Linked DNA regions of Homo sapiens. The protein of the gene in region 1 interacts with the protein of each later gene in a pairwise test. Each region holds a gene or a part of one and is shown on either strand. Other genes may lie near its edges. The genes, in order: ARHGAP32, NPHP1 and DZIP3.

Evidence for each region.
Region 2: the proteins of ARHGAP32 (region 1) and NPHP1 interact in a two-hybrid assay, tested with the Homo sapiens proteins (one study listed by BioGRID).
Region 3: the proteins of ARHGAP32 (region 1) and DZIP3 interact in binary tests that used the Homo sapiens proteins (3 or more experiments, as listed by UniProt).

What each region holds. Positions count from the first base shown.
Region 1 is NC_000011.10:128,968,657-128,972,409, forward strand, and holds part of ARHGAP32 (rho GTPase-activating protein 32), read right to left. Parts: intron 2,504-3,753; coding exon 251-2,503; 3' UTR 1-250. UniProt on the Homo sapiens protein: GTPase-activating protein (GAP) promoting GTP hydrolysis on RHOA, CDC42 and RAC1 small GTPases. May be involved in the differentiation of neuronal cells during the formation of neurite extensions.
Region 2 is NC_000002.12:110,198,396-110,202,148, forward strand, and holds part of NPHP1 (nephrocystin-1), read right to left. Parts: intron 3,100-3,753; coding exon 3,026-3,099; intron 1-3,025. UniProt on the Homo sapiens protein: Together with BCAR1 it may play a role in the control of epithelial cell polarity. Involved in the organization of apical junctions in kidney cells together with NPHP4 and RPGRIP1L/NPHP8. Does not seem to be strictly required for ciliogenesis.
Region 3 is NC_000003.12:108,690,628-108,694,380, reverse strand, and holds part of DZIP3 (E3 ubiquitin-protein ligase DZIP3), read right to left. Parts: intron 3,595-3,753; coding exon 3,484-3,594; 3' UTR 3,478-3,483; intron 1,022-3,477; 3' UTR 1-1,021. UniProt on the Homo sapiens protein: E3 Ubiquitin ligase proteins mediate ubiquitination and subsequent proteasomal degradation of target proteins.

The DNA.
Region 1 (3,753 bases):
GGGTTTCAGCACGGGGCTTTACCATCCTTCAGATCTTTTCTAAAGACAAAAATGACAAAGTCTATAGATGGAAGAGGGGGTAATGAAGCAGGGAAGGGGAAAAAGATGCTGATTTGTTTACTTTTATTATCATTTTTTAAATGTGGTCAGGGGTTTTATAGTATTTTTTGTTTAATCTTTTTGGTTATTGAAAAAAATAGAACAGTCCACTGTCCAGCAGAGGCTGCTTCAACTCTATTGCTCGCAGGGCTCATTCTGCATGGATCTGTGTTTCAGGATGCTGCAAGGACAACTCTGCGGGCAGGAAGGCCCCTTGACCCAACGCTGTAGCATAGGTCCTGCTCTGTGGATGGGGAAAGCCAGGGGGCACATACGTCCCCATGCCGCCCCCTCCAAAGACTCCTCGCTGGTGCTGAGGCAGGGAGTGGTAATCTTCCAGGTTATCATACTGGGACACAACAGTCACACTGCTCTGGCGCTTGCCGTGTGGTTGGTACTGGTACAGCACACTGGGGTCCCTCTCCACGTTCTGGGTATGATGGAGTTTGAGGCTATGACTCCTCTCTGGTTTAGGGGGTGGGACGATTGACTGAGTGAGGTGTTCTTCCTCCTTGTAGCAGTCTCTGGAGTGTTTCTCTGGGGCAGAAGGCTGCCTAACCCAGGGTCGCTCCATCTCTTTGGAGAGCCTTACCTCTTTGTGGTTCAGTCTTAAAGATTCTTGCCCGGATGCAGCATATTTTACTCCAGAGTTGTGGTAGCTGACTGGCTCAGAAGTGTCTGGAATCCCTTTGGACCCATAATCTAACTGGCCAGCTCCCTGGGGATAAGGGGGCCCATTCTTTGACTCACAGAACTGCCTATGGCTTGCTTCTTGGTGTGCCCTGTGCTCAGGAAGACTGCAGCCCATGTCAGGAAGCTTCCTGCTCCTCAGGCTGCTCTGCTTCTGAGGCAGGGATGGCTTCTCCGGCTGCGTGCTACCATGGCCTCCGTGATGGTGGGCTCTGTCCATCTCTGCCTCGGGATGCCTCCTATAGAAGCGGTCCTCTCCCTCGGGACTGATGGCCTTGGCTGCATGGCGGCTCTCCTTTCCTTCTGCCACTGAGAGAAGTCCAGTTTTCCCAGGATCTGATTTACTACGCAGATGGATGACATAGATCCCACCCAAGTCGTCCTGCACCGCCGGGGTCATGTTATCATATTGGGACATGACAGGCCCTTTCACCTTCTGCCGAGCACGGCTCTCTCTCCGGATGGACTGCATGCGGTATTTTTCCATGTCCTCAAGATCCCATGAGGTGTAGGTGTGCTTCACATCAGCAGCCGGAGGCATGCTGACTACATTATGGTCGTTGGGAGAGAAATAGCCAGTCACGTTGGCCCGGGGACGTGGAGCCAAACCAGCATAACTGTACAAGCTCTTTCCTTGCAGCCTAGGATTGTAGAAAGCAAAGTCTCGATTGGGAAGGCGGTGAAGGGGTCTCAACTGGACTGTGCCATAGGCATCCACATCACACAGGGCCCCATCTGGACTGTAATAGGAACTAGAAGAACTGGAATATGGGCTATACCTGTAGTGGACCCGGCCATTCTCAAAGTAAGGCTGAAGCTGAGTGACATGATAATCTGAGCGGGCCTGGGAGGACTGATATGGCTTATATTGGTACAGAGGTCTTGGGCAGTAGGCTGGCTCATCATCTGGGGGAACTTCTGTCCGTGAAATGGGAACAGAGCGAATCATGGAAGACGGCGGAGCATGGAGAGACTGCACTCTCCGGATGGTAGGGTACGGTGGAATGTCTTCGGGGTAACAGGTATTCCTGACAGAGGAGCTCAAAGAAGACACATACTCGACCCGGCTGCATGGCTTGGAGTGGTGTCCAGATGCGTTTCTTCCTGGGGCCACATATGTGTTATAACGAAGACCCATGGAGGCTGGTGGCTCTGACCTGGCACCATACACTTGGTGCTGCTCCAATTTATTGTGATGGGGAGGTACACTCTGGGGACGGTACTGGCAGTTTGGAGTCATATTGAAATGCAAACAGTTATCTGGACCAAAGGGTTCAGTGGTGACATCGGGCCTAGCAAAGGAGGAGTAAACTGTTTTCTGAGAAGCATGCTTAGGTTGTGGGACAGGAAGTGGTAAAGGCAATGCATCGTCCACAGAGGTGGATGAAGCAGTGACAAAGGAATGATAATTTGAACTGCTGGTGGCATCTGCACTGCTGGAGTGTATGGCAGCAATCATCTTACTCTCCATCATCCTGGTGGGGGGCAGTGGTGCAGGAAAGCCACAGGGATGCGCAGGGACAGACTCGGCGCGCAGGTGCAGCAGCGGGACCCGGGCACCGTCCCGCACTTTCTCAGGCAGGCCTGGCTGGACAGCTGTAGCCATGGGACACTGAGCAGCAGCAGCACCACTGTCACTGATGAAGGCAGACGCAGGGTCATCCATGGCTCGAGGTTCAGGTGGCCTCTCTGGAACTGGAACTACTCCTTGAACCTATTGAAAGATGATAATACTATGGGTCTATTTTTTGTTCCCTCTATGAATCAAGTACTATTAAATTTGTAACTCACAAATTAAGGCTGGTTGGGTAGCAGCTTGAACTTTCCCAAGCCATGTGGTTGCAATGAATCTGTACCCATTTCTAGGAAAAGAAGGCTTGTGCTGCTATTTTGTACAACACCCAGTATTATCTTTGGAGAACCATTCAAAGTTTTCTAATTTATGAGAGGTTTTAAATGCGAGATGAGGTTGCCTATGGCATAATTTTAATATACAAACCAAAAGAGAGGTTTAGTCAAGTAATGCTGTAGAGCTTAAAAATACATACCCGGTCTATTAGTCTAGCTCAGTCTCAACACAAAGGACATCTTGTTAAATTAAGAGTTAATTCTATCATCTGGGGAGACTTTTGAAATTCACAGTTGTACACAGTTAGCAGTTTTAGGGCTTCAAACATAGGGAAAGGCAATATTCAAATCAGAAGCTACTGCCTCTCTCCTACCTTTGATTCCACCTTAGTCTGGCCAAAGATAATCCTCATACTGAAAACATGCTATCCTTGAGAAGCAGTAAACACAGCATCCTCCACTAAGGTCTAAAATCTTAAGTCCTATTAATAGTTCAAGGTGACCATATAGAAGAAAAACAACCTGTGGCACTTTCTTAAAATATGAGGAAATTCAGGAAGAAACCTTAGCATTCTGCATACTACATTCTCTCATTGAAACAGGCACCTGACTATGGGACAAACTGCTGGTGAATGCTAGGAAAGTAACAAAAAATCCCAAGGCACTATAATCTCTTATACTTCCAAAAAGTCTGCAAGGCAGACAGTCTTACGAATGTTTTGAGAATGAAGTATTTTCATTGTGTAACTGTGAATAATTGGCAGAGGGTAGGTAAATGACTTGCCCAAAGTCACAATGAGTCAGTGATGGAGTTGGAAAAAAATAAGAAAAAGCAACCCACAACCGTAAAGCCCACTTTGTCTCATTTGATCCTGATCTCTTTGTGTTACTGGAATAAACTACCGAGACACTTTAGGAAGAAAAGGGAGCAGGTACAGTTAAGCTATAGTCATCTAGGAGCTACTCCTTTCCTGGGGAAAAGCCAGCATCAAGGTAATGGCAGACTCCAACCTCAAATGGGAACTATCTCATGGAAACCAGCCACAGGGCTTAAAAGTAATTGTTGTGTCTGACTCAAAGATAACAACACACCCTGCTGAAAAGTGACATACCTTT
Region 2 (3,753 bases), on another chromosome or scaffold:
TAAGCTTTGAGGAGGGAAATCAATGTTAAAGCAATCTAAGGTCTTTATATTAGTCAAGGGAAGATTAATGATACTGATTACGTTTAGATTTAGTTGGGGTTCTTTCTTTTAAAAGTCTATTTACAGAAAACCTGAGCCAGTTAGCTCCCTTTTCCCCTCTCTGCTCTCCCTCCTTACCAGGGGATTCTTCCCTAAAAACAAAAAAACAAACAAAAACAATTAACAAACGACCTGAAGAGAATCATGACTGCTAAAGAAGTTTCCCATACACCAGGGTTAGAGCCGGCCCTATTCTGGCACTGGGGGATCCTCAGACTAAAAGCTACTTCCGAGCCTCTGATAAGCCCTATCAACATACAAAATTTCATTCTTATTCAGGGGATGGTACTAGCAGGAAGGACCCCTCTCTATCTAACAGTAGAAAAGCCCATGAGAGCTCTCTGGAATAATCAACCTAGTCCCTCATTGTTCAATAAAAATAGATAAGCCAGACCTAATAAAGAAAACCGGCAACGTGAAGATAAAATTTAAGAATAACCAAATATAAATTAATTAATTAACTAATTAAAAGGAATCTGAGCCCAGAGAAAGCAAAGACAATTCAGAGAACAGAAGAGAACTTAAGGAGAAAAAAAAAGCCTCCTAGTCATGGAAGTAGTAAGAAGGCAATCAATATGAAAACAGGAACATGATGCTATGAAAAAAGAACAATTCGAGAACAAGAGAAAACACTTGTAAATTAACAACATGACTGATGATGGCCAGGCACGGTGGCTCACGTAATCCCAGCACTTTGGGAGGCCATGATGGGTGGATCACCTGAAGTCGGGAGTTTGAGAGCAGCCTGGCCAACATGGTGAAACTCCGTCTCTACTAAAAATACAAAAAATTAGCCGAGTGTGATGGCGTGAGCCTGTAATCCCAGCTACTCAGAAGGCTAAGGCAGGAGAATCGCTTGAACCCAGGAGGCAGAGGTTGCAGTGAGCCAAGATCATGACAGAGTGAGACTCCATCTTAAAAAAAAAAAAACCAATATGACTGCTGAAATAAAACAATATGGCTGTTGAAATAGGTAATAAAGAAAAGTGTTAAAGTCAAGAGAATTGCTAGCATGGTAGCTCGTGGCGGGGGAGGGGGGCATCCCTTGAGCCTGGGAGGCAGAAGGTGCAGTGAGCCATGATTGTGCCACTTCATTACAGCCTGAACGACAGAGTGAGACCCCCCACATCCCCCCAAAAAAACATCTCCCATACAAACAAAGAAACAGAAACTATTAACAGGAAGTTATGGGATATAGAGGATCAGTCCAGGATATCCAATACCTGACTCAAAGGTGTTTCAGGAAGAAACAGACAAATGGAATTAACGAAATAATCTTTTTGTAAAATAAAATCTCCCAGAGCTCATGAGACATGAGTTTTCAAACTGAAAAGACTCAGAGCACTGAGCAGATAAAAATGATACCTAAATGACATTTTCAGATATGCAAATGTCAAAGTGAGTTTTTAAATGACAGTAACAATCTTCTTTTCATGCACAGAGAAGACTATGGTTACTTGGGCTTAAAAATAATTATTAGGGGCCGGGCGCGGTGGCTCACGCCTATAATCCCAGCACTTTGGGAGGCCAAAGCAGGGGGCATGAGGTCAGGAGATTGAGACCATCCTGGCTAGCACGGTGAAACCCCATCTCTACTAAAAATACAAAAAATTAGCCAGGCATGGTGGCGGGCACCTGTAATCCCAGCTACTCGGGAGGCTGAGGCAGGAGAATCGCTTGAACCTGGGAGGTGGAGCTTGCAGTGAGCCGAGATCATGCCACTGCACTCCAGCCTGGGCGACAGAGAGAGACTCTATCTCAAAAAAAATAAAACATAACAATTATTAGGCTGGGCACAGTGGCTCACACCTATAATCCCAGCACTTTGGGAGGCCAAGGCTGGGGGATCCCTTGAGGTCAGGAGTTCGAAACCAGCCTGGCCAACGTGATGAAACCCATCTCTACTCAAAATACAAAATCCAGCCAGGTGTGGTGGGGCACGACTGTAATCCCAACTACTCAAGAGCCTGAGGCAGAAGAATCGCTTGAACCTGGGAGGTGCAGGTTGCAATGAGCCGAGATTGCGCCACTGCACTCCAGCCTGGGTGACAGAGTGAGATTTAGTCTCAAAAAATAAAATAATAATAATTATGATTTTTAGTTTACTAACATAAAATTTAAAAACGTAGTTTTCCCTTGGCCTTCAAATTCAGTCTATAAATCTTACTCTGTTTTTAAATCTAGTAAAGCAAGAACAATAACCTTTGCTTTTCTTTCATTACTGTTAATTCAGCTTGAACTAAATCCCTTAATCAATCCTACTATTATAAATTAAATTCATTTGACATTTCAAAATTCATTTGTTTTGCCTTTAAGCACTCTGAATGCCTGACTTAAGTAAAACTTCTCCAAACAATTACAATTCACTTAAATTAATAGAATGAATCTCATGTTCTTTGGAATGTAATAAAATCCTTAAATATCTCAAAAACAAAGATTATCTTAATGATGTCCTAAACTTAATACAAATGTTATGAATTAATAGTCTAAATTTGATGTAGTTCATCACGTCTATTTAAACTCTCCCAAGGATTTTTTTTTAAGTAAAAACAAATACAAAACAAAAAACACCCACCTAGAAAACAGTGTTGTCTTCTCATGGGAGTTAAAGTTGACATCCCAATGAAGTACTAATTGCTTATAGACAGAGGTTTCTGACCAGGTCACAGGATCTGGGCTACATAGGCTAAGGATTTAGGGTAATCCTGCCCATGTCACCTATGTTTACATTAAGCAGTTTTTATAGTTGCTGTCACAACAGCAAGTCCGCAACCATCAGGTTTAGGTTGGTTTCTTCTACATTCAACTTACAACACTATGTGATTCTTCCATTTGATTCCAAAGGACCAATCTCTATGCCTTAAATACTATGCATTGAAATGTAAGTGCGGTTCCTGTAAAGCTTATATAATTTAGCATACTTTACCTTTGATAAATATGTTGTCTTTTATTGGGTTCTAGAGCTTCTTTCAGTTGGCTCTCAGAAAGCAAACTATCAACCTATGGAGACCATTTAAAATATCACATTATTAAATACCATATCGCCTTAGGAAAGAAAACTTCTTTTTTTATCCAATATTTTATAATGAACACTTTTAAACATACAACAAAGTTTTAAAAATTTTACAGTGAAAACCCATATACCCGCTACCTAGAAAAAACATTAACATTATACTATACTTATTTGATCTATCCGTCAACCCACCTTATGCCTTTCAAAGTAAGTTGCAGTTATCAATACATTTCTCCCTAAATAATGGACTATGGATGTCACTAACTAAAGTTCAATAGTTGATGTAAAATATGTATATAGTGAAATGCACAAATACGAGGCATACATTTGCTGAGTTTCGACAAATGCATACATCTGTGTAACCAAAATTCTTATCAAGATGTAGAAAACTACCATCACCCTAGTAAGTTCCCTCATGCCCTTGCCAGTAAATCCCCTCCTTATTCCTCCACAGACAAACCTGTTTTGATATTTTTCCAACATAAATTAGTTTTGCCTGTTCTTGAAATTTTATATAAATGGACTCATACAGTAAGCACTCTTGTGTAACCTTTCCACAAAGCATGTTTTTGAGATACTTCCATATTGTTGTGTGTACCATTAGTTCATTCCTTCTCATTACTGAGTGGTATCCATTGTAT
Region 3 (3,753 bases), on another chromosome or scaffold:
AATGGACTAATACAAGGTGCTAGACAAGGTGATTAAAGGCTCTATAAATTCTAAATTGTGCAATTCTAAGACATTCTTGGCATTTTACATGTCTAGATGACTGCCATCTTTTTTTAAATATTTTTCCCTCACATGTTCCAGTCTATTCTCATTACAGAAGAATACGTTTAACATACAGTTACAGAAACAGAGGTTTTAAATAAATATTTAAAAGTAACTTCAAAATATATTTGCACTGAAATATGGAGGCAAAATTGTTTCTGAGTCAGGAAACATTTATTCTTCCCCATAAATTTAAATGGAGGTGAAACTGTGAATATGAAGCAAAGAACATTTATCTCACAAGGTAACTCTGAATTCTTTTAATTCTGAAACCAGAGACATGTACAACACTTACAGCATTCACACAACACTATTTTCAAAATAGGTTTTTGACCCCTAAAAATGAAAATTCTTAGTGACAAGCTTTAGATATGAAACTTAGCCCAGTGGGTATTCACTTTGTCACAAAAAGCAACTACAGACAAATAGTTTTTCCCTCTCCCCGACACAAAAACTGAAATTACAGACTTTTAAAGCAGAAAAAATTTTCTCCAAAATGCAAATGATTAAGGTCCAAGGAACAAATGAACAGAAGATCTCAATTATTCAATTGAGCGAGTGATTTAGTTTGCATATTAACTCCTTTTCTTACTACTTCCTGATATCTGATTCTGGCAATATTTATCTTGTATCTACTGGGCAAGACACTGGGAACACAAAGAAATTTTAGACAAGGTCCAGTGGTATGCTGGTAAAGGTTTAACAACTAGCTCTTAAGGGAAAGGTAGGTCTTCACTTATAGCATTTCTATGGTGTAAATACTCCAATTGCCGCAGATTTCAAGCTAGCAACAATTTGACAACTGTCTCACAAAATTCCTCAAACTAACGATTGTCACTCATAAGACATTACAAGCCAGCTCCAACACACCACCGTACAGTCTCCACCTTCAAGTAGTTCATAATCTCTTCATGGGTACCTATTTAAGGGGATATAAAAGAATGGGGAATATTGAGATATAATTTAAATCAATTATATTTTTTAGGTAGTTTTAAAAGTTAGAAGGAACATAAATTTCCATGGGATTTTCCTACTTCTTTTTTTTTTTGTCATGGCAAATAACCTCATATTTTATTCAAAAACAATACCCCCTCCCCAGTCATGCATTTATAATTAAAATATCCTATTTTAATACATTCTCCTTATCTCTACCTTAGTGAATTAAAAAAAAATCTCTTGACATAACTGGGTAATTGTAACAATTCTCTTGTAATTGCTTTGACTGTGGAAAACAGGCATATCAGATTGCAGTCCCTCACATGACAGGCACACCAGCAAGATAACAAAAGACAGATTGACAAGAGAACAGCATAAAATTTCATTTAATATAAGTTTTATCATATTAAATAATATATTAGGTATTTATTAAAACTTTTTATATAATATATATTAAAACTTATTTTTATATAATAAAATTTATTACATACAAATAAAACTTATTATATAAAAATTTGTTTTAAATGATTGGACAAAAAGGTATGGTCTAATGGTAATAAACTGGGGGAACTTGGCAAACTTGTTAGTAAACTTGGAAAAGTAAACTATCTGGACCCATCGCAAACCTGTTGATTCAGAATCCCTGGGATGGGACCAAACAATCTAGCTTAAAAGTCCTCCAGGTGATTCTGATGTAAACCATTTGAGAAATACTGGCACATGGGAAACTTTTACTGTTTATCTAAAGGACAGGCAGACATGGAAATGCAGGGAATATGTCAAGTAAGAAAAATAAGCAGTGACGCATGTGCCCTGACTTTAAATGTATGTAGAACAACAACAGTTGTTCAACAGTCTCAAATTGAATGAGACTATTCAACTGGATCTATTCAGAAACATATGAACTGTCCCTTTCTGTTTCATTTCCGTGGGCTTATGTTAGTGTAGAAGCCTGAGTACATTTGCTGTGGGCAGACATGTAAATTCTTTAGCCCATGGGAAGCTGTAGAGAAGAAAGTAGGATTGAGTACTGCCTCCTGATCATCTCCCAGGACTGGATTACCAATAGCCAGTCTGTCTATGCCCATGTTCTGTCATGTGCCAAGCAGGGGCAGAAAAAAAATATATATATTTCTATCAATTCACATTATAATTATAATCAATTCACATTATAATATAAATATAAATATAAAGCCAAAATGTTCTTGGCCTTTGTAGGGGAGAAAAAACTTTTTCCTCTACCAACTTTTGTTATTTCAATAGGAGCCTGCAAATTAAACTGAAAAAAAGACATTAGTAAGAGAAAAGAGCTTATTTATGCGGACAATGTTCGCACATGTGGGAGTGTTCCGTGAAGAGTAACTGAAAAGTGTGGTTAGAATTTGGGGCTTATATACCTAACTTAGTAGGGGAAAGGAATGGGGGAGAAAGACATCTATGGGAAGGACAAATTGGTTCGTTTAGGAAAGACAAATGGGTTTTCAGGAGAACAAACAGAAGATAAGAAAGTTTGTGATAATACTTATGCAGGTATGAGTGGTCTTTCTGTCTTCTTCATGGCCATGAAACTGCACCTGAGACGGGTGATGAGATTTAAGACATGCTACTCCAAAATATGGCATCTTGATGTTTGAGAAAACAGCAGAAGCAGGGAAGTCTCACTCACTTTCCTCCTGCACTTCTTCCCAGAAACAAGTCATAAAACCTAGGAAGGATTCTCTGACCTTCCCTGGAAGCAGGTCATAAGACCCTCATTCTAGAGGTACCCACTGTATACCTGGAGGAAAAGGACATCCTTATCTCTGGAGACACAGGGACACAGAGAAGAATCTGAACAAATGACTTGCTATGTTTCTTCCAGTTTCTTACCATTAGATCATACCCTTTTATCCCCTCATAGCTCTCCGTGAATATCCACTTCTTTTTTTTTTTTTACTTTCTTTTTTTTTTCTTTTATTATTATTATACTTTAAGTTTTAGGGTACATGTGCACAATGTGCAGGTTAGTTACATGTGTATTCATGTGCCATGCTGGTGTGCTGCACCCATTCCTACTTCTTTACTATTTCCCTTTTCCTTAAATTTATTTCAGGAAATTAAAGTGTAGAATACTTGAGGGGAGAGTAAAGGATGAGTGAAATAAGAATTTAAAAAGACAAGAAAAAACATCCTAAGAAATATGCTAACAGTTATGTTTCCACTACAAGAAAAAAACCTACTAAGAGCATATATAGTGTAACTATTAAAATTCCATCTGCTTCAAGCTCTTTCAGTTCATTTCACAAGTCCTGAAGATTTGTCCTGACTTCTTTGGCTGCTGCTTTGATAAAATTAGCTGGCTTCTTTAGCACTATATTGAAGAGCACATAGTTTTACACCACTCAAACAAGCAGCTCATAATAAAAGAAAACTGAGCTTCCTTTGCATAGACACCCCGACCTTGTATCAGATCTTGGGCAACTGCCGGCTGGGGTGACCAGGGAATTCTTCTGGTAGCAAAACGTGGAGTCTGCACGTTGGACATGTCCCCTGTTGCATCAACCATGGTCTAATGCACTAAGGAGCAAAAAGATTTATGTCAGTCTCTCAGATGTAGCCTAGCAGAGGCAGTTGTCACTCTATGCATCAGGGTTACCAACCAACATGTCTTCTGGTGGATCTTTAAAGCCTTACGCTGTGGATCGTCAAACCAATTGCTGCAACCATGGCACCTTC